2 separate regions of the Homo sapiens genome follow, and region 2 is linked to region 1. Evidence: fine-mapped expression QTL. Tissue or cell type: whole blood. Region 1 holds a variant in brackets; the other region holds the start of a gene. All regions are shown on one strand. Distances are between the middles of the regions.

What was found. PIP is the estimated chance that this variant, and not a neighbour inherited with it, causes the effect.
Region 2: PKN3 starts here. The variant in region 1 is fine-mapped to the expression of PKN3 in whole blood (INTERVAL, PIP above 0.99).

The regions. Positions count from the first base shown.
Region 1 is chr9:128,853,122-128,861,379 of GRCh38, reverse strand. All of the region lies in intron 1 of KYAT1-SPOUT1 (KYAT1-SPOUT1 readthrough), which reads left to right. All of the region lies in intron 1 of KYAT1 (kynurenine aminotransferase 1), which reads left to right. Among named protein-coding and RNA genes, the nearest start is that of KYAT1, 25 kb to the left of the region's middle. The variant T/A (reference allele first, on the strand shown) is at 4,230.
Region 2 is chr9:128,698,248-128,706,247 of GRCh38, reverse strand. PKN3 (protein kinase N3) reads right to left here and starts at 3,745. Exons shown (of 22, transcript NM_013355.5): 1 at 3,309-3,745; 2 at 705-945; 3 at 369-514. The coding sequence starts at 3,332. RefSeq lists an enhancer at 2,929-3,468 and a silencer at 3,283-3,852.

The DNA.
Region 1 (8,258 bases):
CTGCTGAGCAAAGGGGGAAAAGCTCTTTATAAAACCATCAGCTCTCATGAGAACTCACTCATTATCGCCAGCACAGCAGCATGGGGGTAACTGCCCCCATGATTCAATTACCTCCCACTGGGTCCCTCCCAGGACACGTGGGAATTATGAGAACTGCAATTCAAGATGAGATTTGGGTGGGGACACAGCTCAACCCCATCACCTTGGATTTGATTCCTAAGGCTGTTGTAACAAACTAGCCACACTTCATTGTATTGCGTTTGGCAGATATCACGGTCTTTGCAAATTGAAGCTTTGTGAGAACCTTGCACCAAGCAAGTCTATTGTTCCCATTGTTCCAACAGAATGTGTTCCCTTAGGGTCTGTGTGTAATTCCCACAATAGTTCAAACTTTATCATTATTATTATGTCTGACACGGTGATCTGTGATCAGTGATCTTTGATATTACTATTGTGCTTGTTTTGGGGAACCACAAACCATGCCCATATAAGATGGTAAACTTAATAAATGCGTGTGGGCCGGAGGCAGTGGCTCACAACTGTAATCCCAGCACTTTGGGAGGCCGAGGTGGGCAGATCACCTAAGGTCAGGAGTTCGAGACCAGTCTGACCAACATAGTGAAACCCCATCTCTACTAAAAATACAAAAATTAGCCAGGCATGGTGGAATGCGACTGTAATCCCAGTTACTTAGGCTGAGGCAGGAGAATCGCTTGAACCCAGGAGGCGGAGCTTGCAGTGAGCCGAGATTGCGCAACTGCACTCCACCCTGGGCGACAAAGCAAGACTCCGTTTCAAAAAAAAAAAAAAAAGGCTGAACAAACTGAAAAACCAGCGGCTCTTTTTCAGTTCATCAGAAAATTAGGTCACAGGGTAACCTGCTGCCCCCAAACTGGAGAGGCAGAAAGGTAGATACAGAGAATCATGATTTGCCAGAGCAGAAACCTTCCCTGGAATCAGCACCTGGGTGGGAAAACCTGAACTGCAACTGACGAATGTCTGGCAGCGTGGATGTGTGCTGCTGGTTAATGTTAGGTGGCAGCTGGACTGGAGTAAGGAATACCTAGAGAATGGTGAAACATGACTTCTGGGTGTGTCTGTGAGGGTGTTTCCAGAGGAGATTGGCGTGGGAGTCAGTGGACTGAGTGGGGAAGATCCGCTCTCAATGTGGGTGGCAGTATGCAATTGGTTCACGGCTTGAATAAAAACAAAAGAGGAGAAAATTTTCCTCTTTCTGTCTCTGTCTCTCCTGGAGCTGGAAGATTCTCCTTCTCCTGCCCTTTGGATATCAAAACTCTAGGCTCTTCAGCCTTGGACTGAGAATTATCCCAGTGGCGTCCCTGGTTCTGAGGCTTGCAGACTTGGACTGAGCCACGCTACTGGCACCTCTTGCAAATAGTCTCTCAGGGGACTTCTCAGCCTCCATTAATTGCGTGAGTCAATTTCCCTATAAATCCCCTCTCATGCACTTTGGGAGGCCGAGGCGGGTGGGTCACGAGGTCAGGAGATCGAGATCATCCTGGCTAACACGGTGAAACCCTGTCTCTACTAAAAATACAAAAAATTAGCTGGGTGTGATGGCGGGCACCTGTAGTCCCAGCTACTTAGGAGGCTGAGGCAGGAGAATGGTGTGAACCTGGGAGGCAGAGCTTGCAGTGAGCCGAGATCGCGCCACTGCGCTCCAGCCTGGGCAACAGAGCGAGATTCTGTCTCAAAAAAAAAAAAAAATGGCTGGGCAAGGTGGCTCACCAGCACGATCTCGGCTCACTGCAACCTCCACCTCCTGGGTTCAAGCAATTCTCCTGTCTCAGCCTCCTGAGTAGCTGGGAGATTACAGGCATGCGCCACCACACCCAGCTAATTTTTGTATTTTTAGTAGAGATGGGGTTTCACCATGTTGACCAGGCTGGTCTCAAACTCCTGACCTCAGGTGATCCACCCACCTCAGCCTCCCAAAGTGCTGGGATTACAGGCAGGAGCCACTGCACCCAGCTGAGAGTAACTTTTTTTTTTGTTGTTGAGACGGAGTCTCCCTCTGTTGCCCAGGCTGGAGTGCAGTGGCGCGATCTCAGCTCACTGCAGGTTCAGCCTCCTGGGTTCACGACATTCTCCTGCCTCAGCCTCCCGAGTAGCTGGGACTACAGGTGCCCACCACCACACCTGGCTAATTTCTGTATTTTTAGTAGAGACAGGGTTTCGCCGTGTTAGCCAGGATGGTCTCGATCTCCTGACCTCGTGATCCGCCTGCCTTGGCCTCCCAAAATGCTGGGATTACAGGCGTGAGTCACCGTGCCTGGCCAAGGGTAACTATTTTTAAGTATGCCAGAGCATTCCTCCAAAATACTCTTTTTCTTTCTTTTCTTTTCTTTGCTTTTTTTTTTTTTTTGAGATGGAGTCTTGTTCTGTCACCCAGGCTGGAGTGCAACGCACAATCTCAGCTCACTTTAGCCTCCAAGCAATTCCCTTGCCTCAGCCTCCCGAGTAGCTGGGATTACAGGTATGAGCCACCATGTCCAGCTAATTTTTGTGTTGTTAGTACAGACAGGATTTCACCGTGTTGGCCAGTCTGGTCTCAAACTCCTGACCTCAAGTGATCTGCCCACCTCAGCCTCCCGAAGTGCTGGAATTATAAGCGTGAGCCACCGGGCCTGGCCTAAAACATTCTTTTTCTTTTTTTGTTTTTTGAGATGGAATTTCACTTTTGTTGCCCAGGCTGGAGTGCAATGGTGCAGTGGCTCACTGCAACCTCCGACTCTCGGATTCAAGTGATTCTCCAGTCTCAGCCTTCCAAGTAGCTGGGATTACAGGTGCATGCCATCACGCCTGGCTAATTTTTGTAGTTTTAGTAGAGATGGGGTTTCATCATATTGGTCAGGCTGGTCTCAGACTCCTGACCTTAGGTGATCTGCCCGCCTTGGCCTCCCAAAGTGCTGTGATTACAGGTATGAGCCACCATGCCCGGGCTTTTTTTTTTTTTTTTTTTTATACATGGTCTCACTCTGTTGCCCAGGCTGGAGTGCAGTGGAGCAATTTTGGCTCATTGCAACCTCTGCCTCCTGAGCTCAAGCGATTCTCGTACCTCAGCCTCCTAAGTAGCTGGGACTACAGGTGCATGTGACTTCGCCCAGCTAATTTTTGTATTTTTGGTAGAGATGGGGTTTTGTCGTGTTGGCCAGGCTGGTCTCAAACTCCTGACCTCAGGTGACCCACCCACCTCAGCCTCCCAAAGTGCTGGGATTACAGACGTGAGCCACCGTGCCCAGCCTTGGCTGTTTGTGTATCTTTTTTGGAAACATTCAGATTTATGATTTGCAGATATTTCCTTCCATTCCATGGGCTGTCTTTTCATTTTCTTAATGGGTATCCTTGAAGCACAAAAGTTCTTAATTTTGATGAGGTCCAGTTTATTTTTTCTTTTGTTGTGTATGCTTTGGATGTTATGTCTAGAACCCCAAGGTCACAGAGATTTATTCCTATGTTTTCTTCTAGTTTTCTTGTTTTAGTTCATACATTTAGTTTTGTTTTTTGTTTGTTTGTTTGTTTTGAGACGGAGTCTCGCTGTGTCGCCCAGGCTGGAGTGCAGTGGCGTGATCTCTGCTCACTGCAAGCTCCGCCTCCCGGGTTCACGCCATTCTCCTGCCTCAGCCTCCAGAGCAGCTGGGACTGCAGGTGCCCACCACCACGCCCAGCTAATTTTTTGTATTTTTAGTAGAGACGGGGTTTCACTGTGTTAGCCAGGATGGTCTTGATCTCCTGACCTTATGATCCGCCTGCCCTGGCCTCCCAAAGTGCTGGGATTACAGGCGTGAGACACCGTCCCCAGCCCATACATTTAGTTATGTGATTCACTTTGAATTAATTTTTGTGTATGGGGCAGGGCACATGGCTCACGCATGTAATTTCAGCACTTTGGGAAGCTGAGTGAAGCGGTGGCCTGTCCCTCCACACCTGTGGGTATCTCATCAGGTGGGACGAGAGACTGAGAAAAGAAGTAAGACACAGAGATGAAGTATAGAGACAACAGTGGGCCCAGGAGACTGGCAAGCAGCATATCAAGGACCTGCACCAGCATCGGTTTCTGAGTTTCCTCACTTTTTATTGATTATTATTTTTATTATCTCAGCAAGAGGAATGCAGTAGGAGAGCAGGGTGATAATAAGGAGAAGGTCAGCAAAAAAACATGTGAGCAAAAGAATCTATGTCATAATTAAGTTCAAGGGGAGGTACTA[T/A]GCCTGCATGTGCACGTAGGCCGGATTTATGTTTCTCCCCGCCCAAACATCTCAGTGGAGTAAAGAATAACAAGGCAGCATTGCTGCCAACATGTCTCGCCTCCCGCCATAGGGCGGTTTTTCTCCTATCTCAGAATTGAACAAATGTATAATCAGGTTTTATACCGAGACATTCAGTTCCCAGGGGCAGGCAGGAGACAGTGGCCTTCCTCTATTTCAACTTCAAGAGGCTTTCCTCTTTTACTAATCTACCTCAGCACAGACCCTTTACGGGTGTTGGGCTGGGGGACAGTCAGGTCTTTCTCATCCCACAAGGCCATATTTCAGATTATCACATGGGGAGAAACCTTGGACAATACGTGGCTTTCCAAGGCAGAGGTCCGTGCGGCTTTCCGCAGTGCGTTGTGCCCCTGGTTTATTGAGATTAGAGAATGGCGATGACTTTTACCAAGCATACTGCTTGTAAACATTTTGTTAACAAGGCATATCCTGCACAGCCCTAGATCCCTTAAACCTTGATTCCAGACAACACATGTTTTTGTGAGCTCAAAGTTGGGGCAAAGTGGCTGGGGCAAAGTTACAAATTAACAACATCTCAGCAAAGCAATTGTTCAAGGTACAGGTCAAAATGGAATTTCTTATGTCTTCCCTTTCTACATAGACACAGTAACAGTCTGATCTCTCTTTCTTTGCCGTACATATCCCCCTTTTCTTTTTGACAAAACCGCCATAGTCATTATGGCCTGTTTTCGCTGGTTGCTGTCTCTCTGGAGCTGCTGGATACACCTGTAGACCAGCAACAGAGAACAGACATACAAGGATTAATACAAAATTTGCAATAGTGGAACTTCCAGTGGTTTTAACCCAAGTGATGGGGTTAAGATTTGTGAGGCCATCAGCAGCTTTCACCATTGCCTCAGTTTCTGGCACCAGATTGAACTGGGCTTTTGATGCCTCAAAAATTTGTTATTTTAATTTTAAAATATCTAAAGTAAGGTTATCTTCTCTTCCTTGTAGATGGCGTCTAACCATGTCCCAGTGATGTTCAGATTCATTATAGGCTCGAGGTGTAATACAAAAATCTGACATATTCCAGTCACACTGTAACTGAAAAAGATATTCTAAGCTCATGAGCCTATCTCTCATTCAAATGACAGTTTGTCTACGATCATTAATTTGGTTTGCCAATTTTTGGTCTATTTGAGTCTGAGAATTCCACAATTTTGAGGAGTTCTTTTGCCAATTATTTATATATTTTGTAGTTTGAACAGAGGAGTGTAAAGCAATTCCAGCAGCCGCAGCAGTAGCTGTGACTGCAATAAGACCCATAATCACTGCAATTAAAGTAAAAAATGAATCTTTTGGATCTAGTTAGAACTCCTTTTAATACTTCTGTTAAAATATGGATGGATGGGGAAGCCTCCCACGGTCGGTCCATGGACACAGGGATCCACACACCCTCTCTTGCCCTCACTGGCAGAATATGGTGCTGCCAATCAAAAGTTGAATCAATGCAAGTAAACAATCTACAATTTTCACAGGTTATAGTTTGGGAATCTGGTTTAATAACTATGTTTCCTACAACTAGCATATAAGAGGGTTTTACACAACTTTGCAAAGGAATTGTCGGATTGGAATTTAGGTTAATAGTATAATGTGGCTTATGATTTCTTGTTCCGATAACTTGATTTCCAGACCAAATTCTAATGTGGTGCGAGGCCACAGTAAGCTTTCATAATGCTGGATGTTCAGGAGCAGTAACAGGACTAACTAACTTTGGTTGAGGTGATGAAATCCCCTTTTCACCCCATTTCCATGGATAGGGTGATTCTAGCCTTCTATAAACCTGGTCTAGCCTTTCAGTTAAATCACTATCATAGGCCGGATTAGTGGGCCAGACAGATGGGGTCTGTGAACATGAGTGAGTCTGGCCCATACAACCATAATATAATTGGTTTTGAGGGGCCCAGTCTATAATAGTTCCAAATTTATTGTTTTGTAATACCACCACAGTATCAGCCACATATTTTTCCCAAACTAAGACTTCTGGGTCTTTTGATTCTTTGGGAATTTCCTTGAGGCAAGGTCCCCTTAGGCCTAAATTTTAATGATCTTTGATAAGAAGAGTCCTGTAAATTATTCATTTGTGACCCAAGTGACATTCCACTTACCATATGATAAGTAAATTTATTGGTGGCACTGACAGTAGATACTTCTACCAACCAATTTTGGGTTGTAGGCATTAAGCATCCTGGTGCTTTCCCCAGGCAAATAGGAGGATAATGATACCCAGTGGAAATGTTTATCATCATTCCTTCTTCTTCAGGTTGGGCAGGGCCGCGGTCATCTGTGGGTCCTGGTACCCATGCACTAATATTAACACATACTTCAATAGAATATTATCCATCCAAGTGACTGCCTGAATTAAGGGCGGGAAAGGCACATAGGCCCAGTAAGTATAATTAGCTGCAGCTGCTCCTGCAGACATAGTGAGACTTACCACCATTGATACAATCATTAAAGCTGCAAGCAGCATATTCTCTGGAGTTTGTGTTACCCTTGTGTACTTTAGGCTTTTTTCAGCTAACTGTGTCAGCTTCTTTAGCTGGGCCCAGGTCGGCGGCTTCGCTTTTTTGGTGGATGGCAACTTTTTCTGTAAGTTGTAGGTACCCAAACTGGAAGCTGATTTTCTCCTGGTGAAACACGAGCAAAACCTCTCCCCCACGTTATCACCTTCTCTATTTTTTATGTTTTATTTTTGTTGTCTTTTTACCAAATCAGTTTTTCCTCATGTGGGCTGTTCTTTTTACCAGTAAAATGTTGTTCTGCAGAAGTAGCGGTCTGATTTCTATAAATGTTAAAAAAATTTAAAGTATAGAGTGCTAGATTAAGTTGCATCTGGGGAGTGTTATATTCCTTACTGTCCTTTTCCTTTTTTTGTTTAACCAATTGAGCTTTGAGTGTTCTATTACTTCTTTCAATTATGGCCTGTCCTTGGGAATTATAAGGGATTTCTGTTGTGTGTGTAATTTTCCACTGATTTAAGAATTTTTGAAATGCTTTACTACAGTATCCTGGCCCATTATCTGTTTTAATTTTTTATGGAACTCCCATGACAGCAAAACAAGATAATAAATGTCTTTTAACATGGGAAGTATTTTCTCCTGTCTGGCAGGTTGCCCATATGAAATGTGAATAAGTATCAACTGTCACATGGACAAATGACAATTTTCCAAATGAAGGTACATGTGTGACATCCATTTGCCATAATGCATTGGGACATAAACCTCTGGGATTAACTCCTGCCTCCTGAGTGGGCACATGTAGGACTTGACACTGAGTACAATGTTGTACAACATTTTTTGCCTGTTTTCATATGATATCAAATTTATTTTTTAGTCCTGATGCATTTACATGAGTCAAGGCACGAAGTTTTTATGCTTTTATGAATGCAGATGATACTAGCAAGTCAGCTTGTTCATTTGCCTTAGTTAAAGGCCCTGGTAAATTAGTATGTGTTCGAATATGAGTAATATAAAATGGGAAATTTCTTTTTCTTACAGTTTGTTGTAACGAATTAAACAGCTGATTTAACTGATCATCCATACTATATTTGATTAGGGCTGTCTCAACATCCTTTGTAGCCTGTACTACATATGCAGAATCTGAAACAATGTTAATAGGCTGATTAAAACCTTGTAACACTGAAATGACAGCAACCAACTCTGCTCTTTGAGCTGAGTGATATTGAGTTTCAATGACTTGTTCTTTTGGCCCAGTTTAAGCCACTTTTCCATTGCTGGAACAATCAGTAAACGCCATCAGAGCATTTTCTAAAGGTTTATATCTGGTAATTTTAGGTAAAATCCAAGTAATCAATTTTAAGAACTGGAAGATTTTTGTTTTTGGGTAATGATTGTCAATAATTCCCACAAAATCAGCAAGACCAATCTGGCATGCAGCAGAATTGATAAAAGCTTGTCTAACCTGTTCCTTGTTTAAAGGAACAATGATTTTATCTGGGTCACT
Region 2 (8,000 bases), 160 kb after region 1:
CATCAGATCAGGGCAGGGGCTAAGCTAAGCCTCCCCCATTAGATCAAGGCTAAGGTCCTGCCTCCGTCATCATATCAGGGCCACAGCCAAGTCTTCTTGTCAGACAAGGACTGAGGCCCAGTTCTGGACATCATGCTGGGAGTTGGGACTGGGGCTGGGCTAGGATCCCATTAGACCAGGGCAAGGCCTTCTCTGTCACACTAGAGACTACAGCCATGCCTTCCTCACCCAGCTGGGGTTTGGGGCTGTATTTTCCCCATCAGGCTGCAGGCTGGAATGGTGTCTCCTTATGAGCCCAATGGCTGAGGTGCATTTCCCTGTCAGACCAGGGGCCAGGGTGCTCCTGCCATCAGACTGTGGGGCCTTACCTTGGGGGTGCCACTGGCGCACGTGTGGGTCATGTTCTCAGCCCCCTGCTTCACCTTCAGCTCCACATGCAGCTGCCTCCGGAGAGCCTCTAGGTGCCGAGCCCTGAGCTGCTCTGCCCACGGCCGGGGTCCTGAGGCCACAGGCTCTGTGCACGGGGGTATCGAGCACAGGAGTCCCTCACCCAGAGCCGAGACCCCCACTGTGGCCTTTCCTCCTTCCCCTACTGATCTATAGGCAGGAAATGAGGTGGTCTCGCCACAGTGGCCAGGGCCAAGGCCAGGGGCCAGATGGGCCTAGAGCCTTCTGTCCTGAGGGGGTCTCAGCTCCTCACTCACCAGCTGGGCCAGGCCCAGGGCCGGGCAGCAGGATTCGGGCGTGCAGCTCCCGCAGCTCGCCATGCAGCTGCTCCAGGCGGCGGTTGGAGGACCGCAGCAGCTGCTGCACATGGCCCAAGTGGCGGCGGTCTGTGGCCACGCGCCGCAGGTTCTCCACCCCCTCCTTGATCTTCAGCTCTTTCTGGATGGCCCGGCGGATCACCTCCTTCTCATCCTCTGGGGGCCACTGGCTCGGCCCAGGCTGCAGAGCCGGTGGAAAGCAGAGGGTGGAGAACAGCCATGGGGTGCAGCGGCCACCAGCAGCCTTTGCTCACTGCAGATGGAGGCGAAGGAAGGGACGGCACCCAGGACTGACTCGCACAGGGTTTTGGAAGCCTCTCTCCCCTTAGAGCTCAGGCCTGAGCCAGATGGAAACTCCGAGGCCACTCATCTAGGCCAGGCTCCTGTCCTCCGCCCGTTAGAGAAGGATGTGGCGGGGGGGACAGTTCACACGGTAAATGGGTGCCAGGTTCTATTCTAAGTGCTTTGCATATATTACCACATCACTCCTCCCAGCCACCCCACCCGGTAGCGGTGGTCATTACCCCCATTTTCTTTTTTCTTTTTCTTTTTCTTTTTTTTTTTTTTGAGACAGTTTTGCTCTTGTTGCCCAGGCTGGAGTGCCATGGCACGATCTCGGTTCACCACAACCTCTGCCTCCCGGGTTCAAGCGATTCTCCTGCCCCAGCCTCCTGAGTAGCTGGGATTACAGGCACACGCCACTAAGCCCGGCTAATTTTGTATTTTTAGTAGGGACGGGGTTTCTCCATGTTCGTCAGGCTGGTCTTGAATCCTGACCTCAGGTGATCCACCTGCCTTGGCCTCCCAAAGTGCTGGGATTACAGGTGTGAGCCACCACGCCTGTACTATTACCCCTATTTTCTAGTGAGGAAACTGAGGCCCAGAGAGGTGAAGTAACTTGCCCACAGTCAAGACACAGAGGAGGGGCCACCATCTCTCGGGCCCCAGCTGTCCCTGGCAGCCCTGGGTAATCAGGCTGCTCTCTCTACATCTGGGACCCAAAGTAGAGTCCAGGAGCCACAAAAGCTACGCCGAATAGGGGTTCACACGAAGCCACATGAGAAGGCAGCCAGGGGCCTGGGAGCCAGGGCTTGTTCCCCTGATGTCCCAATGCCACAGGTAGCAAAGCAGAGGCACAGAGAGGAACTGGGGAGGTCTCCGGGTGCCCACTCCCTGCTCAGCTCCCGGGAGGAAGTAGAAGGCTCTCTCACGGCTTCACCCAGGTTGGAGCCAGGAACAGGAACACCTCCTTTCCAGCCGCCAGCATTTCAAACCAACCGGTGCCAAAGGTGACCTCAGGCCGGGTAACCCATGATGCCCCGCAACACGGGCTGTTGCAGGAACCCCATCTTACCTCTCTGTGTTCCATCTTCTCCTGAGCCCAGTGGAAGGGGCCGCAACCCCAGACTCAGGGACCCCCCCACCCCAGACCTCAGCGGGGCCTGCTGGCCCAGCTGTCAGAGGGCAAGGGCGAGGCTCAGGAAATCCTCTGACCGCCCTAGGCCACAGGGCCAGAGCCAAAGACCGGAGCAAACAAAGGTCCCATGGAGCTGGGGGCCCGGCCACCGGGGTCCTGAGTCACCCAGCTGCCGCTGCAGGGCGGAGCCCCGCAGGAAATCGGAAAATGTGTACAAGCTACGTCTGGAACAGGCGGAGGGACCTCCAGAGGAAGGGGGTGGGAGGGGGCAGACCGAGCCCCAGCCCTGAAGGCGGCCTAAACGACTGGCTTGGGCGCTCAAGGAGTCTACACGCACCCCGCAACACCCCCATGGTCCCGTCTGCCCTGGGTTGGAACTCCAACATGGACACACACACCACCTCCTTTCCGCTCTTTGCGGGGACCCACTCCTGTCCGCAAATGCCCCCCTCCCAACCACTCGCTCCGGAACAGGACACCACCTCTCCCTCCTCAGGAGCAGATAGACATGGCCTCGGTCCTCCGGGCCCACGCGCACCTACTGCCAGCTCTGGCAGGAAACCCAGCCCCCTCCGCATTCTAGAACCCGCTATGTACCCAAAGGTTCCCGCCCTGGGGCGGGGGAGGCCGCTCCCCTCTCATCTACGCTCCCCTCGTGCCTCCTGTGCTCCGGGAAGGACTCCTGCCACTGCCAAGCGCGCACAGACTGCGCCCCCCGCTGCGCGCACATTCTAACCCCCCCAGGCCCCTGTGCCCCGCCTTTCTATCCCGGCTAATTCCCGTCGGCCTTGGAGCCCCACCGAGGAGAACCGACTTAAGGACACTCTGGGGACCACCCTGGTGGCGCACACTGCGGACTCAGCCGTCCTCGCTCACGGGCTGGTTGGGGTTCAGTCTCCGGGTCAGCCGCGGACTGATTTGGAGACTGTGCAAGGTCCAGGAACCACCGAACCCGGAGATCAGGTCTGCTCTGCGAGGGCGTCGCGGGGCCGGGGCCAGGGCAGGGGCAGGGAAGGGGCGCGGGTGAGGGGAGGATCGGGGGAAGCGGCCGCGGTTCGGGGCTCCGGGGCGATGACAGAGGCTTTCTCGCACCCCCCGGGCCCGCGCGCCCCTCCCACGCCGTTCACCTGCCGCGGCGCCCCCTCCTCCATGGCGCCGCTCCGGCCGCTTGGGGCCCTTCTCTCAGCCACTCCGGTCCCGGAAGCCGCAGACCCTCCGCCAGGACTTTCAAACTTGAAACTTCCCGGGAAGCGGCGCCGGAGACGCGGGATCGGGCGCCCCCTCCCGAGACCCGCTGGCCCGCGGGACCAGCGCCGCCTCCCGTCCGCGCCGATCCAGCGCCCGGGACCCCACGCCCGAGGTCCCGCGCCCCAGCGCCTCCCTCGGATCCAAAATTCCGCGGGATTCTGGGCCCAGTACCCGGGCTTCGGCGCCTGCGGTTCCCGCTGGGCGTGACCGCGCCTCACCCCCGGTTTGGACGCTCAGGAGGCACATCGCCCGCGCCCAGGTCCTCTGGCCTTCCCCGCCGCGCGCCCGCGGGAGCCGGCCAGTTAGGGACAGGGATGGGGGAAACAGCGCCCCCTGAAGGTTGCCGGGTCGCCCAGCCGGGTGCAGCCGGTGGAGCTGGCCGCCTCCTCTAACTTTGAGCCCCTCTACAACCTGGCTCCCGCCTCTAACGCGCTGGGCCTCCTCGACCAAGCCCCTCAAGTCTCTCTTTGTCTCGCACGTTGTTGGTGTAATGTGGGCTAATCCAAAATTGTCTCTCTCCTCGGAGTGGTTGGCCCAGACTAGATATTAGTCACTACAAGAATGTATACTAGGCCAGGTGCGGTGGCTCACGCCTGTAATCCCAGCAGTTTGGGAGGCAGAGGTGGACGGATCACGAGGTCAGGAGTTCGAGACCAGCCTGGCCAACATGGTGAAACCCCCGTCTCTACTAAAAATACAAAAATTAGCCGGTCGTGGTGGCGGGCGCCTGTAATCCCAGCTACTCAGGAGGCTGAGGTGGGAGAATCACTTGTACCCAGTAGGCGGAGGTTGCAGTGAGCCGAGATCCTGCCACTGCCCTCCAACCTGGGTGACAGAGCGAGACTCCATCTCAAAAAAAAAAAAAAAAAAAAAAAAAGAACGTATACTTGTGGAAAAGTAAATCCTCACCCAAAATTATGATAAATTACAAATTACAGATGAATGAACCAGACCTCTCTCCGGCCCATCTCTTACTCAGACTGAGCTTGCTGGTTCAGCCCGTGCCACTTTTTAGGGCTTTACCCTAAAAAGCCCATCCATCCACACGGGAGAAAAGCCATTTACACCTGGTGAAATAGCCGCCACTATTTCAGCCCAAGGGAGGTGTGCTGGTCACTGCCTAGTCTATGGCGGGCCATTCAGCCCGTCCTGGCATCCTGCGTTTACAGGAGGTTGTGTCAGCACTTCGTGGAGGAGCGTCCTCCAGGAGGTGGGAAGGTGATGAAGGGTCAAATACCGACAGTGACTTGGAACAGACAGGCTCTGGTGCTCTTACTGAATGAAGGAAGCCACATGTTGTGCTTTGCACTAATCACTTCCTTCATAATGGACTGGAAAAAAGTGAAATTGGTGAGCCATGGACAACACTGGGTTGTCCTGCTATGGGAAATCACCCAAGTGGCATTGACATATAAGCAAAGGCAACTTGGCTCTGTGAAACATGCCCAGATTTCATAATCAGAGGCGAAATGTGACATTTACACATTAGAGTTGTTGAGGTCTAGACATTAGCAGAAGCACCTGGCACATAGTAGGTTCTTTGACATGGGGGTTGGCTGGGCATGGTGGCTCATGCCTGTAATCCCAGCACTTTGGGAGGCTGAGGAGGGCAGATCACTTAAGGTCAGGAGTTCAAGACCAGCCTGGCCAACATGGTGAAATCCCGTCTCTGCTAAAAAAAAATTAAAAAGGCAGCTGGGCGCGGTGGCTCACGCCTGTAATCCTAGCACTTTGGGAGGCCGAGGCAGGCGGATCACAAGGTCAGGAGTTCGAGACCAGCCTGGCCAACATGGTGAAACCCCGTCTCTACTAAAACTACAAAAAAAAAATATTAGCTGGGCATGGTGGTGGGTGCCTGTAATCCCAGCTACTAGGGAGGCTGAGGCTGGAGAATCACTTGAACCTGGGAAGTGGAGGTTGCAGTAAGCCAATCTCGCCACTACACTCCAGCCTAGATGACAAGAGCAAAACTGCATCTCAAAAAAATACATAAAATAAAAAATTAGAAAAACTAGCTGGGCGTGGTAGCGCACGCCTGTAGTCCCAGCTACTCGGGAGGCTGAGGCAGGCAAATCACCTGAATCTGGGAGGCAGAGGTTGCAGCGAGCTAAGATCACGCCACTACACTCCAGCCTGGGCAACAGAGCAAGATTCTGTCTCAAGAAAAATAAATAAATAAAAATAAAATAAAATGGAGGTTAAATGAACGTTATTATCCATCATTTAGAAGCAAAAAGGCTGACCAAGCCCAGTGGCTCATGCCTGTAATCCTAGAACTCTGGGAGGCTGATGAGGCAGGAGGATTGCTTGAGGCCTAAGAGTTCAAGACCAACCTGGCCAACATAGTGAGACACCATCTCTTAAAAAAGTAAAATAAAGAAGTAAAAAAGTCCTCAGCTTCTCACTGCAGCTCATCAAAAACCCAGGAATCAAACTAACAAGCCTTCCCCACCTTTTAGGAATTCTCCAGTGGTGCAATCAGTCCAGCCAGCTAATTAACACTTTAAAATGTGTATTTGCCTTGATGGCTAAATGTTACTTCTGGAAGCCAAGAGTAATCTGAGATAACTCTCCATAGGAGGGTGCTCACATCTCAACTCCCGGCTCATTTATCCACTCACTGCAGGCAGGAAGCTGAATTCGATGGTTTTCCAAGTTTGGTTGGAAAGTGGCTTTGTTTTTTGTTTTTTTGAGAGAGTCTTGCTCTGTCACCCAGGCTGGAGTGCAGTGGCTCAATTTTGGCTCACTGCAACCTCCACCTCCCGGGTCCAAGTGATTCTCATGCCTCAGCCTCCTGAGTAGCTGGGACTACAGGCACATGCCACCACACCTGGCTAATTTTTTTTTTTTTTTTTTTTTCTTTGAGACGGAGTCTCGCACTTTCGCCCAGGCTAGAGTGTAGTGGCTGATCTCGGCTCACTGCAAGCTCCGCCTCCAGGGTTCACGCCATTCTCCTGCCTCAGCCTCCCGAGTAGCTGGGACTACAGGCGCCCACCACCACGCCCGGCTAATTTTTGTATTTTTAGTAGAGACGGGGTTTCACTGTGTTAGCCAGGATGGTCTCGATCTTCTGACCTTGTGATCTGCTCGCCTCGGCCTCTCAAAGTGCTGGGATTACAGGCGGGAGCCACCGCGCTCGGCACACCTGGCTAATTTTTTATATTTTTAGTAGAGATGGGGTTTCACCATGTTGGCCAGGCCAGTCTCGAACTCCTGACCTCACGTGATGCACCTGCCTCAGCCTACCAAAGTGCTGGGATTACAGGTGTGGCTGCCGCGCCCGACCTGGGGAGTGTTTTTCACCACCTTACACAGGGAAGCCAAGTCCTGGACTGCTGGATGAGTCTGACCAGGTAGTTGCACCTTACTTCTGATAGTGATAACACTTCATAAGACTGGAATTCTTAGGAAATTCGTGTTCAGCATTTAGTGGACCGTGAATAGTGCAAACCAACTCTCTAGCCAGTTGGCCTTTAAAAGACTATAACTCACTGGGCGCGGCGGCTCGCCTGTAATCCCAACACTTTGAGAGGCCGAGGCGGGCGGATCACGTAAGGTCGGGAGTTCAAGACCAGCCTGACCAACATGGACAAAGCCCGTCTCTACTAAAAATACAAAATTAGCCGGGGTGGTGGCGCATGCCTGTAATCCCAGCTACTCAGGAGGCTGAGGCAGGAGAATCGCTTGAAACCGGGAGGTGGAGATTGAGGTGAGCTGAGATCGCGCCATTGCACTACAGCCTGGGTAAAAAGGGCAGAACTCCATCTCAAAAAAAAAAAAAAAAAAAAGACTATAACTCAACTGAAAGGAACCTAAAACTTGTCAACAGGCTGCATGAGGAAACATTTTCCCCCTTCCATGAATACAATTTTTTCCTTCTTGGTGTTGCAACCAATTTTTGTTTTTTCTGAGACGCCATCGCACTCTGTCGCCCAGGCTGGAGTGCAGTGGCACGATCTCAGTTCACTGCAACCTCCGCCTCCTGGGTTCAAACAATTCTCCTGCCTCAGTCTCCCAAGTAGCTGGGATTACAGGCGCCCACCACCATGCCTGGCTAATTTTTGTATTTTTAGTAGAGATGGGGTTTCCCCATGTTGGCCAGGCTGGTCTCGAACTCCTGACCTTGTGAACACCCACTCAGCCTCCCAAAGTGCTGGGATTACAGGCGTGAGCCACCGCGCCTGGCCCTACAACCAGTCCATTTTTATTTCGGTTTGTCTCTGGGTAGAATCTGAGCACACAATGTCACCAACTACAGTTGGTCTATACCCTCCACTTTAAAAGTCCTTGCTATTCTGCAGCCCTTTGCCTCAGGCCTATTAAAAAGTAAACTTGTGCTGGGCGCGGTGGCTCACGCCTGTAATCCCAGCACTTTGGGAGGCCAAGATGGGTGGATCATGAGGTCAGGAGATCAAGACCATCCTGGTTAACAAGGTGAAACCCCGTCTCTACTAAAAATACAAAAAATTAGCCGAGTGTGGTGGCCAGTGCATGTCGTCCCAGCTACTCGGGAGGCTGAGGCAGGAGAATGGTGTGAACCCGGGAGGTGGAGCTTGCAGTGAGCAGAGATC